Homo sapiens: one gene and its partners. The protein of the gene in region 3 purifies or fractionates together with the protein of the main gene of each other region. This does not show direct contact. Each region holds a gene or a part of one and is shown on either strand. Other genes may lie near its edges.

The links. The genes of interacting proteins can lie anywhere in the genome.
Region 1: the proteins of ELOVL1 (region 3) and UBE3B purify together in Homo sapiens (affinity purification with mass spectrometry; one large-scale study listed by BioGRID and IntAct). This does not show direct contact.
Region 2: the proteins of ELOVL1 (region 3) and DHFR purify together in Homo sapiens (affinity purification with mass spectrometry; one large-scale study listed by BioGRID and IntAct). This does not show direct contact.
Region 4: the proteins of ELOVL1 (region 3) and HPRT1 purify together in Homo sapiens (affinity purification with mass spectrometry; one large-scale study listed by BioGRID and IntAct). This does not show direct contact.

The regions. Positions count from the first base shown.
Region 1 is NC_000012.12:109,498,134-109,501,633, reverse strand, and holds part of UBE3B (ubiquitin-protein ligase E3B), read right to left. Parts: intron 3,402-3,500; coding exon 3,281-3,401; intron 2,002-3,280; coding exon 1,824-2,001; intron 264-1,823; coding exon 100-263; intron 1-99. UniProt on the Homo sapiens protein: E3 ubiquitin-protein ligase which accepts ubiquitin from an E2 ubiquitin-conjugating enzyme in the form of a thioester and then directly transfers the ubiquitin to targeted substrates.
Region 2 is NC_000005.10:80,637,984-80,641,483, forward strand, and holds part of DHFR (dihydrofolate reductase), read right to left. Parts: intron 27-3,500; coding exon 1-26.
Region 3 is NC_000001.11:43,365,212-43,369,262, forward strand, and holds the start of ELOVL1 (very long chain fatty acid elongase 1), read right to left. Parts: upstream 2,801-4,051; 5' UTR 2,704-2,800; intron 2,504-2,703; exon of another isoform or gene 2,275-2,503; intron 413-2,274; 5' UTR 399-412; coding exon 353-398; intron 166-352; coding exon 1-165. UniProt on the Homo sapiens protein: Catalyzes the first and rate-limiting reaction of the four reactions that constitute the long-chain fatty acids elongation cycle.
Region 4 is NC_000023.11:134,498,165-134,501,168, forward strand, and holds the end of HPRT1 (hypoxanthine-guanine phosphoribosyltransferase), read left to right. Parts: intron 1-225; coding exon 226-272; intron 273-443; coding exon 444-520; intron 521-1,865; coding exon 1,866-1,913; 3' UTR 1,914-2,504; downstream 2,505-3,004. UniProt on the Homo sapiens protein: Converts guanine to guanosine monophosphate, and hypoxanthine to inosine monophosphate. Transfers the 5-phosphoribosyl group from 5-phosphoribosylpyrophosphate onto the purine.

The sequences.
Region 1 (3,500 bases), on a different chromosome or scaffold from region 3:
AGCATCCCACAAACACAGCGGAACATCCATATAGGAAGAAACAGGAGCTGTACTTCAGCCAAGTGGAGCTACAGGGTTGGGCCTGCTCCCGTCACTCACTCTTCACTGGGAGCACATTCTGAGGGGATGCTGGCTGTGCGTGGGCTGGCTCCTGGCTCTCCAGTAGCTTCTTGCTCAGGATGTCACAGAAGAAGATCCGGATCAGAGGCACCCCCCACAAGAACTGCAGCTGTTTGGTGATCAAGTGCATTGACTCGTTAAGGCTAGGAGAGAGCAGAGGAGACCTGGTCTGTCAGTTCCATCTGATGCAGGGCCAGGGCCAGCCCACACAGTTCCTAATGGCCTTCCACTCGGAGCTGTAGCTAGGACCTGGCACTCAACATGGCAAAGAAGATTACAAAAATAAAAAGTGGAACTAACAAATCATTGCTGAGGGGCTGGTACGTCAAGGGCATTGACTCTTCATCTTGTCTGCTTTCCCCAGGTCCCCAAGCTCCATGAGTCACACTCTTCTCGAAGACACTTGCTACCACCCAGGTGACAAAAACAATCTTGTACCCACTGCACTGCCTCCCTCCTCATAGCTGGCTTGCAGGTGGTGGGGGGCCAAATCTAGATGACTCAGCAGCCTCCTCAGTGTTTCCTTGCATTCCAGGGGTTCCTTGCCTGACTCCACACTGCACTCAGCATCCCTCAACTTCCTGGAATCTGCTGTCACCTTCCTGCTCAAGAAGGTGAGGTGAGACTCCTAGTGGTTCCCACATTGATCATCATATTGTTAATAGCCGCCACCCCTGAGTACGGCCAGGCCTGCCTGCTGGTAGGTGCTTCACATGCATTATCTCATTCAATCTTTCTAGAAAGCCCTATCAAAGGGAGGGTGAAAATTATCCCCAGGTTTCAGATGAGGAAAGCAAGGCAAAGCAAGTCGTCCAAGTCCCTCCAAGAAGAGGAAGTGGAGCGGAGAGCAGGCTGTCTGCGGAGGTGCTGCTCTCCTTCACTTACCTCCCACAGCCTCCTGACTCTCAGCACCTCCGCCCCATCCTCCTCAGGCTGAGGTGTCACGCTGGGGCAGGCTGTTCCCTAGCAATGAGTCTTTTTAACTAGATAGGACCCAGGGATGTCACTCAGGTACAACAAAAGAAAAATTTGGGGATTTCCTCCCCAGGCCTTTAGTTTTCTGCTGCAAGGGTAACTGCCAGGGACCCCATGCCTCGAGCAGATATGTGAACAAGAAAACAGCTGGGGCAGCAGAGCTGGTTCCTCTCCAGAAACCACTTTATCTCAGCTCAGGTAGATATTTCAAATTCATGAAGCTGCACCTTACTTGATCTCCCTTCTTCTAGTCTAGTGTTTCTCATGTTTTTAAGTTCATAATTACACTTTTAAAAATTTATATTCCACCTCTTGAAAAGGATTTTGGGTGATTTCTATTCCCTTTGAATCATTTGTCTTGTTTTAGCATCTCCAAAATATGGCAGTCTAGTCAAAAAGTGACAGTGAAGAAGAAAAAACATTGATAAGGTCCATAGCTGAATGGAAGGAACAAAATACAAAATAATAGGATTTCAATTTTGTAAAAAAGGATCAGTATTTCTAGATAGGAAAACTGACAGGATGTTCACTCAAGTTATCTTTGGTTTACAGGATAATGGGCTGGTTTTTATCCTCTTTTGTTCTTACTCACAATTTATTAATATATAATGAATACATATTATTTTTATAATAAGAAACAAAACACCACAAGCTGGAAGAAAGAAAGAAGGAAGAAGAAGATGGTGGGAGAGAGGCAGGAAAGACAGTGATTTGCATCTGGGACTCACCCATAATCCACAGATTGGGAGAACCAGCCAAGGACAGGATGCCAGTGGGTCAGGTTGGACTTCTTCTGAGACACATACTTCCGACAGTAGCACAGCGTCTGGGTGAGCAAACTCACGAACCCATCTGTCTCCTCCTCTAACACTCTGGGGCTGAGGGAGCCCAAGTGTAGGAGGTTGCCTACAGAGAGAGAAGGCTGAGTGTGATGGGCCCAGACAAACATTTTGGTGCCTCCCGGCCCTGCTCCCTGCCTGTGGCTCAGGCGGCCACATCCCATGTGCAGCAAGAAATTTCCACATAAGGGGCACCTGTCAATGCCGGAGGCTGCTGTGTGGTGCAAAGGTAAGAAACGGGCCAAGCTGACTTCAAATCCTGGCTATGCCACAGACAAGGTGAGCCGTGGCCGTCAACCCATGTCTCAAACTTGTTTCTTCATTTGTAAGATTGGAATGATGATCCCTACTCTCCATATGAGGATGAAGTGGCAGGTAAAATGTTAGGCACACAGAGGTAGGTGATATTTAGTTAGTGTTACATTTTAATATTATATTAATGCTTAAAAATCAAGGGTTAACATAAGAAATGGTCTTTGAAGAGTATCTGAGTGTCGTGGGAAGTCGCTGTTATTCAACGTTCACCAGTTAGTCAACGTCACTCGTGTGAACATTCGCACCAGAAACTCCTCATGAAATTTGGCCCCAGGGAAGTTTTTATCTCAAGTCTGTAATCTCGCAGGCTGAGGCGTGTGGATTGTTCGAGCCCAAGGAGACTAGACTGGGCAACATGGTGAAAAACCCCGTCTCCACTAAAAATACAAAAATTAGTCGGCCGTGGTAGTGTGCGCTTGTAGTCCCAGCTACTCAGGAGGCTGAGGTGGGAGGATCACCTAAGCCCAGGAGGTAGAGGATGCAGTGAGCCATGACTGTGCCACTGCAGTCCAGCCTGGGTGACAAAGTGAGACCCTGTCTTCAAAAAAAAAAAAACAAAAAAAACTTTTCCTATCTAAAATAAATTTAGGCAAGGAGAATTCTGTGCCTCTGCCTCAAATGCTTCTATTCATAAACCCTTTCTTCCATCTACAATGAAAACACTGTAAAATAGGTAAAGCAGGCGCTGCTCTGATATAAGCCCCACCTAACTACTCCCTCCCTTCTCTCTTGAGATGGGAATTATCCAGGCAATTCACCACATTTTCACTTTCTCCTTGACTGCCAGGAAGCTAAAGGCTGACATCTAATGTTCATTAACAGTCACTTAACTAGTTTGCCAGGCTGGAATATTTTCCATGTGATTTTTATTTACATGTCTATTTTAACTGTCTATCTAAATACGTGTTTTTTATTGTAAGCACTTCCAATTGTTACAGAAAACAACCAAATCTCTAGAATAGTGACAGGCAAAACACTCGGGCTTTCCCTGATGGCCAGGACACAATCAAGTTCCAGCCACGGATACTTACCCATTAGACAAAGCGTATGGCATCCTTCTAAACTTTCACATACATCACGGCATCGATCTTGGTCTCTTAAAAATATGATGAATTTACGAAGCATGTCATGGGATTCTAAAACAGTGAGGCGCTGCAAAGAATAGCAGACCGTTAAATCAGAAACTGCCAGAAACAGTTTCCTGTAGAGAGTGAACTTGATCACTTGCAGATCACCCGTGGTTATGGAGGA
Region 2 (3,500 bases), on a different chromosome or scaffold from region 3:
GAAAATGAGCTCCTTGTGGAGGTTCCCTAAGGTTAAAAAAAGAATTCCACAAAATGTTTGTAAAATCCATCCATACTAGTCAAATAATCTGACTAAGATGCAGTGACTATAGAACTAAAATCATCATAAATATGAATCCTTTCAACAAAAAGCACTTAACATCAGTATGGCCTCTGACCAATAATTTAACCTATATTTGTACATCTGTGGTTCACAATGAATCATAAAACCATGTGATATCTTGTGATATCTCTGGTGGAAAAACATCAGAATAGTAGTTATTTCTGGAGGGGTGGGATAAAGATTAACTTGGACAGGGCAGGAGAGAACTTTCTGGGGGTGATAGGTAATATTCTGTATCTTTGATAGGGCTGGGGTTACACAGGTGTATACATTTATCAAAACTTAGCAAATGTACATTTAAGACGTGTGTCTCATGTAATATTTACTTCAGAAAAAAACTGTAAAGAAAGACTGAATCATTTTATTTATTTATTTATTTATGAATGAGACGGAGTCTTGCTCTGTAGCCCAGGCTGGAGTACAGTGGCGCGATCTCAGCTCACTGCAAGCTCCGCCTCCCAGGTTCATGCCATTCTCCTGCCTTAGCTTCCTGAGTAGCTGGGACTACAGGTGCCTGCCACCACGCCCGGCTAATTTTTTGTATTTTTAGAAGAGACGTGGTTTCACCGTGTTAGCCATGATGGTCTCAATCTCCTAACCTGCTGATCTGCCCGCCTTGGCCTCCCAGAGTTCTGGGATTACAGGCGTGAGCCACCGCACCCGGCCAAGACTGAATCATTAATGGTATGAATGATGAAGTATTTAGGTGGAAATATACTAATGTCTGCAGTTTATTATGAAATGCAAAAATGAACAAGACCAATTGATGGATGAAATGTGATGAAACTAGTAGAGTAAAATGTTAATGGTAGATCTAGGTGGTGAGTTTACTGTAAAGTTCTTTCTGTATGTGTGAAGATTTTCCTAATATTAGAAAAAGAGTGATATGTTTGAATGACTGCAGAAAAGCTTGGAATGACATTCAGACTGTTAATATGTTGTTACCTTTGGGAATGGGGAAAGGATTTATGTTTCAAACAATACAGGAATGGGTGAAGTATTAAAAAATGAGCTTATTATTACTTATGTAATTAAAATCCAAAAGGGAAGAAGTTAATTAATTTCAGTGTTTACTCAGGGGTGGTCCAATATTTTGGCTTCTCTTGGCCACATTGGAAGAAGAATTGTCTTGGGCCACACATACAATACACAAACATTAACAATAGCTGATGAGCTTTAAAAAAAAAAAGATCTGTGCATGTTTTAAGGAAATTTACTAATTTGTGTTGGGCAGCATTCAAAGCCATCCTGGGCCACACTGAGGCCTGCGGGCCATGGGCTGGACAAGCTTGGTTTACATTGACTAGCTTAGTCCCTCCCAATCTCTGAAACTACTTTGTTGGTCGTGGTGGGGGTTGCAATTCCCTTTATAAATGATGAAACAGGTAGAACTAGGCTTTCATAGTAATTAGATACACAACAGAAATTACAATTCCATGTCAAGTTTTTAGCCTGGTGCTTTAACAAGATTATATAATTGCCCTTGAACTCATAGTTATAATAAGGATTAATCAAGAATAGGGACTATTCATTCTCTTGATTGCCTCCTCCCTCTCCCTCCTCATATAAATTTTACTTATTTTACTCTGTCATTCTTAAAAGAATTAGGTTAGAGCAAAGAATATACTTTGACTCAGGCTGGAAAAAGACATGGTGGCCAGAGAGAAGTTAAATAAGCCCAGGTATCTCCTAAGGTATCAGGGCAGTTACAGGGACCAGGTTGGATTAGGCTCTTCAGGGAGAGAACTCAATCTAGAAGAAACAAAGATTTGGAGTTGGGAGAGAAGAGAGTTTAGTTAATAAACAGATGATGGCCAAAACAGAGCCGTGACGGTGTTAGTAAGTGCAGCTGTGAAGACTTCCTTGCCCTTTTTTGTAGTGAGTATAGAAAAGAAAGTGAAGAACAGATTAGCCAGGTGTGGTGGCTCACGCCTGTAATCCCAGCACTTTGGGAGGCTGAGATGGGCGGATCACGGGAGGTCAGGAGTTCCAGACCAGCCTGGCCAACAAAGTGAAACCCCGTCTCTATTAAAAATAGAAAAATTAGCTGGGTGTGGTGGCACGTGCCTGTAATCTCAGGTACTTGGGAGGCTCAGACAGGAGAATCGCTTGAATCCAGGAGACAGAGTTTGCAGTGAGCTGAGATTGTGCCACTGCACTCCAGCCTGGGCGAGACAGCGAGACTCTGTCTCAAAAAAAACCAACTCCACTCCCCCCTTCCCCCCAAAAAACCCATATTAAATATAGTGCAAAGTTAGAGATTTAAGTTAGAGCAAAGGTATGAAGAATATGCTTCCGTAAAATGTGGCTATTTAGCAGTTTAGAGGTAAGTATCACAGGAAACACTGGACCTCTAGGTGGGTAAAAAAGAGCATGCAAAAAGCTGAGCTACGGTTTGAGTTCATCAGCCCTTACATGGCACAAGCGCTAGAAATACAGTAAATGACAAATAGCAAGCATCCAATATAGTCACATATTTCACTGCTGAATTTCTTTCCTATAATTATTTTAAACCAATCTAGATTGGATTCCCTGACAAAGGAGAGTTGGTATGTAGTAGCATATGTATTCTTTGTTAAGAAATGTGTGGACATTTCTTTGTGATTGAGTCTTGAAGGTTTGCATGAAGACTAAATGAGATAATGTACACACTGCATTTAACTGGCAATTGTACGTGGTACTATCATTCCTTTTTATAGATGAGGAAACTGAGGCTGAATGGTTAAGAAACTACTGGTCACACAGCCGGGAAATGATGGACCTCCGAGTTGAACTCCAACAGATTTGACTTTGAAACTTGAGCTGCAATTTGTTACATGGACAAAAGACTTCAGTTGGTGCCTGTGGCAGGGTCCTCCGATTCAGGGGCCCTTAAACATCAGGATGGTGGGGCTTAGATTAGGCAGAACCCTCTGACTCTTGTCTTCTGGCCTTATCTGATTATCTCGGGTGCCATATAAACATTATCCTTTTTCACTGTTCCTGATGTGAGGACTGCCGATGGAATTCTTGCTCAATTTCCCTGAGGAGTGTTGGGAAACCACTTAAAAACAAAAAACCCTGAAATGGAATAGTGTCTTAACCAGAACGCAAAAATACATCTTCAATTTAAGACCCTTCATACTGAGCCTTTAAAAATGGGGTTCCCTACTAAGCCATACCTCATTTTACTGTGCTTCACAGATATAAAGGTGTTTTTCTTTTTTACAAATTGAAGGTTTGTGCCAACCCTGCACTGAGCAGGTCTACTGGTGAAGTTTTTCCAACAGCATGTGTTCACTTTCTATCTCTGTTACCTTTTGGTAATTTCCACAATATTTCAGGCTTTTTCATTATTAAAATACGTTTTGGGGATCTTGCTGTTACTGTTGCAAGTA
Region 3 (4,051 bases):
CCACCAGTGAGAAGTTGTAGACAATCATGAAGCCACGGAGCTGGAAGGGCTTCCGATTAGCCATGATGCGAGGCCCAAGTGAGAGAACGAAGTACACGTAGGTCAGGAGAATGGAGGTCATTAGCAAGGGGGACCCCATCAGAGGGTAGCCCTGGATCCGGGGATCTATGAATAAGGGTCAAAGGAATCAGGAAGAGTCACAGGGTTCGAAGGGTCTTCATTTGAAGGGTCTACAGACATGAGGTCAGGTCACAGGATCAAGGGTTTCATAGGAACTCTCCATTAGAAGACAGCCGTAGATCCAGGGATCCCGGGAAAGAAGGAAGGAAAGGGCTGGTGGATAGCGTCTTACCTGCGTGCTTCATCACCTCTTGGTACAAGTTCACAACAGCCTCCATCCTGGCTAAGGACTCTGGGGAGGTACAGAGGGCGGATGTCAGACAGATCCCACTGCACACCCCCATCCCACAGAGATAAGACACAGAACCAGACAAGACACCTGCAATGCCTCATTGCAGAAAGGACAGAACAGTGAAAGGAAGGAATTACTGGGAACTAGGGGGAGGAGGCAGTTTGGTTGAGGCATCTGCTCCCCACACATCCTGCTTGCCTGGGAAGAGCTGTTCCACCCTTCCTCTCCACACCTTACTCTCCTCTCCTCTCCACAGTTTTACTTCCTGGCCTCCCTTCCCCTCTTCCTCCACAAGATAACTCTCAATTCCAGGTCTCTTACTGGAGAATCTTACCTTCTCACCAACAGGGAGCTCTTGAACTCCGTCTCCCTTCCTCACCCGAGTCCCTCACCTCCCCAGCTCTGGGTCTTTCTTCTCTCCAGGGATTCTCCCCTTCAATCTCTCCTCTCCTGCCCTCTCCTCTTCCCATCCCTCTGGACCCTTCCTGAACTCTCTTCTCCCCAGGGTCCCTCCTGTCCCTGCCAGGACTCTCACCTCTCTGGGCCCTTCTGTCCCTCCAGAACCTTATCCTCGGATTCCTCCTTGCCTGTGCTGGGACACTTATGTCCCTACGATTCTCCTCTGCCTTTCCTGGGACTCTCACCTCCAGCCTCTCCTCTCCAGCGCTCTCCTCTCTCCTCTCGCAGAGCCCTTCCTCTCCTGGAGCCTGGCTCTTTGAGACTCCTGCCCCGGCGGCTCCACCTGTCTGACTAGATCTGGCAGCAGCCCCGCCCTCTGCCCGCCCCTGCTGTACTGTGCAGGGGGTGGAGGGTGGGTCCGGGCCACAGGTCAGTGCCTGGGGGAGCAGGACCCACCAGGATTGGGAAAGCCAAGTAAAGCCCCAGACTCGCCACCCACCCACCCACGTGGGACCAGCCTGATGAGCTAAGGTCCTAGATTCTGAGCCAGAAACCTCCTCTGACCCCAGCCCCAGCCCCAGCCCTGGCCCAAAGCACTGCTGAAAATCCACACCCAGCATCCTCTCCTAAGCCGGCCATAACTGCTCAGTTTGTCCTACTTCAGAATGGGTACAATCACTCTTCCCTTCCTGGGAAGGGCAGGGAAGCCAGTGGCATGTGAAGGGGTTGGGGAGTGGGGGAGGTCGCAGGAATCTTCCCCTCCCTCAGGGAGGGGCCCCGTTGGGCTAGGCCCCCTCCCCCTCAGGGCCTGAAGGAATGTCGGGGGAAGGCTCCCAGGGACACAAAAGCCTCTGGCCAGACCCAGGAGAGCATGGTACTGACAGTCCCTGAGGGACAAGGCATTCTTGGAACAGAGCAGGGCCCAGGGCAGCAGGTGCCCCAGACTCCCTGCTTCCAGAGAAGCACCTCTGCAGATGCCAAGTGAAGAGGCGCACCTCTGACACCTCCCTGCCCCGCACACCCCTCACCTCCAGGAGGCCCGGCTTCTTTAGGCCCACCGTGGTCAGGCCCCAAGCCTGCGGTCCACACCCACCTCTCACCTAGCTCTCCACCCCCAACAGCGAAGGTGCCACGCCGAGGGCTGGCACACACGTCTCCTGCCTGACACACCACGCAACACCTCCGTGGGCTGACACGCATGGCTCCCGGCCCTCACGCAGCTCGGCCACCGCCCAGGCACACGCACGGGCTCACCCGCGGGGCCACTCACACACGTGTGCGCGCTGCCTGGCCACGCTCGGATCCCCTCCTTACTTGCTCCCCCACCATCGGGCTTGCTGGCCGCCCATCGCCGGCAGGGCCCAGGCCGGGGCGAGGGCGCCAACACAGGTTCCTCCCTGACACATGGGAGCCAGCCAGCCTGTTATCTCTCAACCACCAGCCCCCAATATCAACCCACACACCCGGCAGGCCAGGAGGGACCAAGGCTCCTGGGAGGACCTCTCCCCAAGCTGCAGGAAAATCTGGGTGTGTCTCTCGTCGGGGAACTCAGCCCGTCCCTTCCTTCCTTTAAGATGGATGGAAGGGAAAAGGTGCCTGGCAAAGTTAGGGTAGCGGGGGGAGGGAGGGGAGAGGAGGAGGGAGAGAGGTAAATGCAGGGGTGGTGGAGGAAGGCCCGGGTGTAGGCAAATGGGGGCCAGAGACGGGGGTGTGGGGGAGGGAGGGTGCTGGCGAGGCCCGGCCCCAGGGAGCTGGGACCTCCCACCCACTGGCCCCGGGAACACCCTCGCCCACAGCCTGGGCAGGGCAGGGCAGGGCTGGGCCGGGCTGGGCCGGGCTGGCCAGGCAGGGGGCGCCGGCACGTGGAGAGTCCGTGGAAGGTCCAGACTCACCCGTAGGGGCCAGGCGGGCAACGGCGGAGCGCTCGGAGGGAGCAGGGCCAGAGAGAAGTCCCCGGGGCCAGCCTGCCTGCCTGCCACTTCCTCATCTGCTGGGCCGACTTTCTGTCACCAGAGGGGGAGGGGCGGGCCGCGCGGGGGGCGCCCGCTGATTGGGCGGCCGGCAGGGCCGGAGGCCGGCAGCGCAGGCTCGGCCGGGGCGGGGGCAGGGGCGTGCCGCCGGGTCCCAGCAGGAAGCGCCGCGGCCCGGGCTTCCCACCCCTTCCCTCGCCGCCCGGGCCCGCCCTGGCCAGTTGCAGCGGCCTGGCCACCTCAGGAGCACGCTGTCTCTTCCCGACGTGCAGCCCGGGGCCCGGCCCTGTCCCCGGGTGACTGCTCCCCGGCAGGACTGCACATCTGTGGCGGCAGGCCCAGCTCAGGGCTCGGGGGAGGTTCGGCCTTGCCTTCAAAGAGCTCCCTCTCCTGCAGGGCGAGCGCAGAGCGGCGGGCGAGACCACACTGCGTGTGCTGAGGGCGCACTGGTCTTAGCGGGAGGGAAGCCTCACGAGCCTGTACACTTGGAGGAGCCCTAAGCGTTAGGATCTGCTGCGAGGGCTGCCTGGAACGGAGGTGAGAGGATACAAGTGGCCCGGGGCAAGCATAGTGAATCACTGGCTAATCTGGCCTTCGAGGTAGTGAAAGGAAAAAAGGGAAATGAAGCTGACTGTGGCTGAATGTAGTAGGTCTTGAAGGCCAAATGGGGCGATCTGATTTTTATTCTAGAAGCAGAGGAGAAACTAAAGATTTTTTTAGGAGACTATATTCAAGCTTGTATCATTAGTTCATCAGACGTTTATGGACCACCCACCGTCCGTGCACTCACGGGGCTTGCAGTCTATCTGGCTGAATCACTTTGGCAGCCAGTGTGAGGAGGGCACAGAAAGGAGACCAGGTGAGAAAGCCAGCCTGACCAAAGAAGATGTGGCAACTGATGGGATTGGAGGAGGCGGACAATGTCCTCCAGACAGCTGGACTGGCTCTCTATATATTTATTTATCTCTTCTACACCTCCAGCCCCCACCTCCACACTCACTAACTGGACTCAACTAGTGGGGGCAAAGGACAGACTAGATTTTAGTGAAATGGAATTTCTACCTCCAGCGGCCCCTGGAACAGTAGCACACAACGATCTAACAACTGCTTGTATGATTGGATGGTGTAAGTGCGGACAGAATTAGGGAATTTGGGCTACTCTGGGCACACTGCTTATGGGGCAGCCCTGCTCCGCAAGGAAAATAAACACATTTTTTTAAAAAAAGGCCGGGCGCGGTGGCTCACGCCTGTAATCCCAGCACTTTGGGAG
Region 4 (3,004 bases), on a different chromosome or scaffold from region 3:
TGATCAACCAAGTGCCTTGTCTGTAGTGTCAACTCATTGCTGCCCCTTCCTAGTAATCCCCATAATTTAGCTCTCCATTTCATAGTCTTTCCTTGGGTGTGTTAAAAGTGACCATGGTACACTCAGCACGGATGAAATGAAACAGTGTTTAGAAACGTCAGTCTTCTCTTTTGTAATGCCCTGTAGTCTCTCTGTATGTTATATGTCACATTTTGTAATTAACAGCTTGCTGGTGAAAAGGACCCCACGAAGTGTTGGATATAAGCCAGACTGTAAGTGAATTACTTTTTTTGTCAATCATTTAACCATCTTTAACCTAAAAGAGTTTTATGTGAAATGGCTTATAATTGCTTAGAGAATATTTGTAGAGAGGCACATTTGCCAGTATTAGATTTAAAAGTGATGTTTTCTTTATCTAAATGATGAATTATGATTCTTTTTAGTTGTTGGATTTGAAATTCCAGACAAGTTTGTTGTAGGATATGCCCTTGACTATAATGAATACTTCAGGGATTTGAATGTAAGTAATTGCTTCTTTTTCTCACTCATTTTTCAAAACACGCATAAAAATTTAGGAAAGAGAATTGTTTTCTCCTTCCAGCACCTCATAATTTGAACAGACTGATGGTTCCCATTAGTCACATAAAGCTGTAGTCTAGTACAGACGTCCTTAGAACTGGAACCTGGCCAGGCTAGGGTGACACTTCTTGTTGGCTGAAATAGTTGAACAGCTTTAATATACAATAATTGTTGCATTATTATTTCAGATGATAAATGTGGTCATAAGTAAGAAATAAATGATCGAGTTTAGTCTTTTAATTCACTGTCCTTTGAATACCTGCCTCTTACTCTGGAGGCAGAAGTCCCATGGATGTGTTTATGAACATGGTTGAGGAAGATTTAGGAAGACTGCAACAGTACACTACCTAAAGCAGGTTTTTTACTCCATCTTTTTTTGCCACGTACACTGGCCTCCCACTTTGATATGCTTGAAATTATCTCCTTGATTTGTCTTTCAAAACTACATATTGAGGCTGGTTGCGGTGGCTCACACCTGTAATCCTAGCACTTTGGGAGGCCAAGCCGGACAGATCACTTGAGGTCAGGAGTTCGAGACCAGCCTGGCAAACATGATGAAACCCCACCTTTACTAAAAATACAAAAATTAGCCAGGCGTAGTGGTGTGTGCCTGTAACCCAGCTACCTGGGAGGCTGAGGCAGGAGAATCACTGGAACCCGGGAGGCAGAGGCTACAGTGAGCCAACATCACGCCACTGCACTCCAGCCTGGGTGACAGAGCAAGACTCTGTCTCAAAACAAAACAAAAAACAAAAAACTACGTATTAAGACAAGAAACAGACTGGGCGCGGTGGCTCACGCCTGTAATCCCAGCACTTTGGGAGGCTGAGGCGGGCGGATCACAAGGTCAGGAGATCGAGACCATCCTGGCTAACACGGTGAAACCCCGTCTCTACTAAAAAATAGAAAAAATTAGCTGGGGTGGTGGCGGGCGCCTATAGTCTCAGCTACTCGGGAGGCTGAGGCAGGAGAATGGCGTGAACCCGGGAGGCAGAGCTTGCAGTGAGCAGAGATCGTGCCACTGCACTCCAGTCTGGGTGACAGAGCAAGACTCCGTCTCAAAAAAAAAAACAAAAACAAGAAACAAATTAAACTAATGTGATAGACTACTGCTTTGTTTTCAAAAGATACACTCCCCAAAAGTTACTGATCTAAAATACAGTAGTACTATCTCTGTTTAGTAAGAACCCTGACAACTAATAGTGTTCTTATATGTAAAATGCTATTCTTGCCTTTCATTTCAGAATATACTTTTTAAATGTGAATTTCTGGATTTTTTTTTATAGCATGTTTGTGTCATTAGTGAAACTGGAAAAGCAAAATACAAAGCCTAAGATGAGAGTTCAAGTTGAGTTTGGAAACATCTGGAGTCCTATTGACATCGCCAGTAAAATTATCAATGTTCTAGTTCTGTGGCCATCTGCTTAGTAGAGCTTTTTGCATGTATCTTCTAAGAATTTTATCTGTTTTGTACTTTAGAAATGTCAGTTGCTGCATTCCTAAACTGTTTATTTGCACTATGAGCCTATAGACTATCAGTTCCCTTTGGGCGGATTGTTGTTTAACTTGTAAATGAAAAAATTCTCTTAAACCACAGCACTATTGAGTGAAACATTGAACTCATATCTGTAAGAAATAAAGAGAAGATATATTAGTTTTTTAATTGGTATTTTAATTTTTATATATGCAGGAAAGAATAGAAGTGATTGAATATTGTTAATTATACCACCGTGTGTTAGAAAAGTAAGAAGCAGTCAATTTTCACATCAAAGACAGCATCTAAGAAGTTTTGTTCTGTCCTGGAATTATTTTAGTAGTGTTTCAGTAATGTTGACTGTATTTTCCAACTTGTTCAAATTATTACCAGTGAATCTTTGTCAGCAGTTCCCTTTTAAATGCAAATCAATAAATTCCCAAAAATTTAACTGCTTTATGAATTCAATTTAAAAATCCTTAAAATAAGTCCTGTCTCTTTAAAAAAACCTATGCATAGTTATCATTTCTCTACAAATTAACCTAGTTTAGTTTTCTGTTGGTTCCATTTTCCTTGTTTGTTAAGTTTTAGTAGCTAGTTTAATTGTAATCTCAATGATTATGTGGTAGAATGGGTTGGCGGAGCTACAAAAATTCCTAGCTACTTCAGAGACATTAAATTTCAGACACATGGTACACTTTATATTACATTTTACTATGCTAAAATAACACGGCTTTCTTTTGGAATTCTGTTCAGTTTTTCAGATTGTAATCTCAGCTACATCTCAACAGATTGTTCTCAGATATGTCCTATTACCTTCTTTGTGTAGATAGTGCTTTATTGACTAAGAACAATGACAACAACACCTTTTGTTTTCTGGGAATAGGAGAAAAGTTTTAAGCCAAAACTCTTAATTGCTTATCTGCTCCACGTGAGGTATGAACTATCAAA